Linked DNA regions of Homo sapiens: region 1 is linked to region 2. Evidence: fine-mapped expression QTL. A gene starts in region 2. The other region holds a variant in brackets. All regions are shown on one strand. Distances are between the middles of the regions.

The links. PIP is the estimated chance that this variant, and not a neighbour inherited with it, causes the effect. A credible set is the group of variants that fine-mapping cannot tell apart.
Region 1: its variant is the best candidate, but not a certain one, in a credible set for the expression of LINC03124 in whole blood (INTERVAL, PIP 0.87).

The regions. Positions count from the first base shown.
Region 1 is chr2:131,785,042-131,787,951 of GRCh38, forward strand. No RefSeq gene overlaps it. Among named protein-coding and RNA genes, the nearest start is that of LINC03124, 100 kb to the left of the region's middle. The variant G/A (reference allele first, on the strand shown) is at 1,563.
Region 2 is chr2:131,681,313-131,684,222 of GRCh38, forward strand. It overlaps LINC03124 (long intergenic non-protein coding RNA 3124), which reads left to right and starts at 1,187. Exons shown (of 10, transcript NR_167889.1): 1 at 1,187-1,676. RefSeq lists an enhancer at 620-739 and a silencer at 1,110-1,159.

The DNA.
Region 1 (2,910 bases), 100 kb after region 2:
AAATCTCATGTTCTTCTCACATTGCAAGATACAATCATCCCTTCTCAATAGTCCCCCAAAAGTCTCAACCTGTTTCGGCATCACTCGAAAGTGCAGTTTCTTCTGAGACAAGGCAAGTCCCTTCCACTGATGCGCCTGTAAAATCAAAACAAGTTATTTACTTCTAAGATAAAATTTGGGTACAGGGCATTGGGTAAACCTTCCCATTATAAAAGAGAGAAATTGGCCAAAAGAAAGGGGCTACAGGCCCCACACAAGTTCAAATCCCAGCAAGGCAGTCATTAAATCTCGAAGTTCCAAAATAATCTCCTTTGAAACCATGTCCCACATCCTGGGAACATAGAGCATTCCCAGGATGCATAGGGTGGGCTCCCAAGGCCTTGGGCAGCTCTGCTCCCACAGCTTTTCTACACTGAAGACATGAGCTGCTGGTGGCTCTATCATTCTGGGATCTGGAGGGCAGCAGCCCCCCTCCCACAGCTCCACTAGGCAGCCCCCCCGAGTCAGGACCCCGTGTGGGGCCTCCAACCCCACATTTCCACTTGGCACTGTCCTAGAAGAGGTCCTCTTTGAGGGCTCCAGCTGGGCATAGGCTTCTTCCTGGGCATCCAGCCTTTCTCATACATCCTCTGAAATTTAGGCAGAGAATGCCAAGCCTCCTTCACTCTTGCACTTTGCTCACCTGCAGGCTTAACACCACATGGAAGCCACCAAGGCTTATAGTTAGCACCCTCTGAAGCCATGGCCTGAGCTCTATCTGGAGCCCTTTGAACCAAGGCTGGCGCTAGAAGGGCCAGGATGCAAGGAACACCCTCCTGGGGGTGGTACAGGGCAGTGGTGCCCTGGCCCTGGTCCAAGTGGAACAGGAATTAAAAGAAATTAAAGAATGTGTAAGCAGAAACTCAGTTGTATGTAAGAAAACCCAATTCCCCCTGAGAAAGAGAAAGAGCTGGAGCCCTTTAAAAATTAACTGCCGGTTTTTCTGTGGCTAGTGAGCCTCATCTCTCCTCCTTTCCCAGGCATTGTGAAGACCCTGTTCCTCTAGCTGCGCAGCTGCAAGGTCACTAGACAGATAAACTCAAGTCGTAAAACATGTTTTTCCTTGAAAAGTAAGAAATGATATAATGCATGTCTCAATTAATTGAATAACTGTCTTTGTTTCTCGCTTCTGTAATACGCTTCCCCCTGGACAGATCTCCCCACTCCCCACCACCCTACAAAACGCTTAAAAGGTAACTTAAGTCTTTGATCAGGACTCAGTCCTTTGGATGTTAATCTGACTGGGCCGGTGCAACTAAATAATAAATATCCTCCTCAACCCCATTGGTCTCTGATTCCTTAAAAAATCCCACTGCAGCCTGGGCATGGTGGCTCACGCCTGTAATCCCAGCACTTTGGGAAGCCGAGGTGGGCAGATCATGAGGTCAGGAGATTGAGACCATCCTGGCTAAGACAGTGAAAACCCGTCTCTACTAAAAATACAAAAAATTAGCCAGGCATGGTGGCAGGTGCCTGTAGTCCCAACTACTTGGGAGGCTGAGGCAGGAGAATGGCTTGAACCC[G/A]GGAGGCAGAGCTTGCAGTGAGCTGAGATTGTGCCGCTGCACTCCAGCCTGGGTGACAGAATGAGACTCCATCTCAAAATAAATAAATAAATTAATTAACTTATAAATTCCCACTACACAAGAAACCATTCTTTCATCCTAGACCTCTAGGTCTGTGCTGGGATGAGCTGCTGCAACGCTTTCTGAAATGCCTTCAAGGCCTTTTTTAATTGTCTTGGCTATCAGCACCTAGCTTTTTCTCAGTTACGCAAATGTCTCTAATAAGTGGTTGCTCCACAGCCTGCTTAGATTCTTCCCCTGAAAATGCTTTATCTTCCTCTGCCAAATGGGCAGGCTGCACATTTTCTATACTTGTATGGTCTGCTTTTCCCATTTAATTGTAAATTCCAACTTTAAGTCATTTTTTGCTCCTGCATCTGAGTGTTCAAACTTCCTCAGATCCCTAGTACATGAACAGACTGCAGCCAAGTTCTTTGCAAAGGCATAACAGGCATGACCTTTATTTGAAGTCCCAGTAAGTTCCTCATTTCCATCTGAGACCACATCAGCCTATCCTTCACTGTCCATATCACTATCAGCATTTTGGTCACAACCATTTAACTAGTCTCTAAGACATTCAGAACTTTCCTTCATCTTCCTGTATTCTGAGCCTTACAAACTCTTCCAACTCCTGCCCATTGCCTAGTTCCAAAGTCACTTCCACATTTTCAAGTATCTTTATAGCAATGCCCCATGTCTCAGAACCAATTTTCTGTATTAGGCCATTCTTGCATTGCTATAAAGAAATACCTGAGACTGGGAAATATATAAAGAAAAGAGGTTTGAAAAGAAGTTTGTATAGCTGCAGGCTGTACAAGCATGGTTCTGGCATCTGCCTAGCTTCTGGTGAGGCCTCAGGAGGCTTTTATTCATGGCAGAAGATGAAGAAGGAGCAGGCAGGCACATCACCTGGCAAGGCAGGGGAAGCACCACACACTTTTAAACAAATAGATCTTGCAAGAATTCACTCACTATCACAAGGACAGCACCAGGGAGATGATGCTAGACCATTCCTGAGAAATCCACCCCCATGATCCAATCACCTCCCTCCAGACCTACCACCAACATTGGGGATATCACAATGCAACATGAGATTTAGAGGGAACAACATCTGAGGTATCTCATGCCTCATGTTGTGACTTGGTATAATTTCCATAAGATTGCACTGACTTTACACATCATATTGCAGTTTTTGCTAGCTCTCCTGTAATAAGAAAATGGGATTCATCAGCAATGCCTTCTAAGTCTGGCTCTGTTTTCCCATGCAGACTTTTCCCTGAGCTCTGCTTGTAAGTCTTGCTAGAACCTC
Region 2 (2,910 bases):
GTAGAGGGAAATTTATAGCACTAAATGCCCACAAGAGAAAGCAGGAAAGATCTAAAATTGACACCCTAACATCATAATGAAAAGAACTAGAGAAGCAACAGCAAACACATTCAAAAGCTAGCAGAAGGCAAGAAATAAGTAAGATCAGAGCAGAACTGAAGGAAATAGAGACACAAAAAACCCTTCAAAAAAATCAATGAATCCAGGAGCTGGTTTTTTGAAAAGATCAACAAAATTGATAGACCGCTAGCAAGACTCATAAAGAAGAAAAGAGAGAAGAATCAAATAGACGCAATAAAAAATGATAAAGGGGATATCACCACTGATCCCACAGAAATACAAGCTACCATCAGAGAATACTACAAACACCTCTACACAAGTACACTAGAAAATCTAGAAGGAAATGGATAAATTCCTGGACACATACACCCTCCCAAGACTAAACCAGGAAGAAGCTGAATCTCTGAATAGACCAATAACAGGCTCTGAAATTGAGGAAATAATTAATAGCCTCTCCCTGGGAATGGGCGGGCCTGGGTCCAGTCCACAGGGCCCCTCGTGGGCCCTGATGAAGGAAAGAGTTGAGATGGGGGCAGCGCTGGACCCCAGGGCCCCTGCCTGCCTCCTGGAGAGCCCGGTGACCCAGGCAGCCCTGGTGAGGCTGTGGGTGCCTGGGCCATAGCGAGGCCCGCGAGCTCCCACAGGACAGATGCGGACAGTGAGGCCGGGGAGGCCCTGCTGCCCTCCGAACTGTCCCTCCAGCCCCCAGCTTTCTGTGGTTCTCTGGGCCCCCTCTGCAGAGGGGCAGGGGAGCCCACCCTGGATCCTGAGACGCCAAGCTTGAGGGACCCCCAGAGCTCTAGCGAGGCTGCTTCCTTTGCGGATGGTGAAGCTGAGGTCCAGAGGAGGGCAGGGGCAGGTCCTGGGCGCTCCCTAGGCAAAGGGAGCCGATCTCCGGGAGGCGGTCACAGGGAGCGCTCCTGCGACTTCTAGGGCCCGAAAGCTGGGGAGGATGAGAGACCAGGGGCCTTTCGTCGTCCCCTGGGCTGGGCAGAGGCTCAGCCTGTGCCGCAACCCTAAGCGGCTTCTGGCAAGTCCGAGCCGCGGTCCCTTTAAGAGGGGGTGGAGCTTCAACCTGGCACTAGGGATGCTGCTAGCGTGCGTGTCCCTACGGAGCTGAGACTGCAGTTCCTGCGACGCCCCTGCAGCAGCAGCAGCGTGGTCAGAGCGAGCTTCTGAGCGGTGGTGGGTTCCATGTGATGGTGGAGTAGGAGACAGGTCTCCGCGGTCAGTGGCGGGGGCGTGGACCCCACCGGGAACCCTCCCTGCTCCTTCCCTGCCTCTCCCTGTTTTCGTGCCCGCACTTCTTCGTGGGCATCTGGGCCCGAGTCCTCCGCTTGGGGGCGGTTGTGCGGTCCTGGCTACTGCAGCGTCCGCACCCCGGCCGGGAAGGCTATGCCAATGTCCGACCCGCGTCCAGCGTATAGGAGCGCCCTGGCCCACAGCTGGCGGTAAAACGCGGGACCTGGGTCCCTCGGAGCCCCAGGGGCCTCTGAGCTGGAGTCTAGGATTATTTTTGATGCCTCAGCACCTTTAAAAAGAGACCTCGCTAGAGCAGGGGGCATCTGTATTTTCAGTTCTTTGAGGAGTCTCCAGCTATTTAGCTGTTTTCCATGGTGTGTATCCTAATTTTCATTTCCACCTACAGTGTATGAGTTTCCCTTTCTCCAAAACCACACCCGCATTCCTACTATTTTTGGTTTGGGGTTTGTTTTGTTTTTGTTTTTGTTTTGAGACGGAGTCTTGCTCTGTCTTACAGGCTGGAGTGCAGTGGCGCCATCTCGGCCGACTGCAACCGCTGCCTGGTTTTAAGCAAGTCTCCTGTCTCAGCCTCCAGAGTAGCTGGGACTACAGGCGCCGCCACCATGCCCAGCTCATTTTTGTATTTTTAGTAGAGATGGGGTTTCACGATATTGGTCAGGCTGGTCTCAAACTCCTGACCTCAGGTGACCCACCTGCCTCAGCCTCGCAAAGTGCAGAGATTACAGGCATGAGACACCGTTCCCAGCCCCTCCTATTTTTTTAAAAAAATCAAGGAATATTCGATAAGTGTGAGATTATCTGTGTGTGGTTTTGAATTACAGTTTTCTAATGAATAGTTGATTTTGAGGACCTTATCTCTTATTTGTTGTTCGATTTTATGGCTGTGCAGAATTGTCTGTTCAGGTTCTTTGCAAAATATTAGATTGGATGCTTTTGCTACTTTGTAGTGTTTTTTGTGTACATATTAGATGACAACTCCTCGTGAATTACAAGATTGCCTGAAATTTTTGCCTAATCTATAGGATGCTTTTTTAATTGGAAAGTAGTTTTCTTTGATGTGCAGAAACTTTTCATGTTGATGTAGTCAACATGATATTTATTTTTGCGTTTCATGCATGTAATTTTCGTCACCCATATAAGAAAATAATATGTCAGTGACAAAGCATTTAATTGTCAATGAGGTTTTTCTTCCAGGGTGTTTATTTTCCTCTTTGCAAAGGTGAGCAGAGATTCAAGTGACCCAAAATATATGCTCATCCTGTGTTTTAGTTAAAAACATTTTGTAGTTTATGGTCTTTTGTTTTGCCTTCAATTTGGGGGAGTGGGTGTTCATTTTCATACATCGTGTAAAATAAGGTCCTATTTCTCGCTTCTGCATCTGGATATCATTTTTGTCAAAGGTATTCATTCTCTGCCTTCCACATTGCAGTGTTCTTTATCAAAGTCAGTTGATTGTGTCCATATTTGTGTTGATCATGTTTTTGTCCTCCCTGTTTTTGTCCATAGTTTATGCAAGTATCATATATCAGCTGTATAACTACAACTTGGCAGTGTAATTTGATATTAAGGATTGTGGGTCTTCACTTT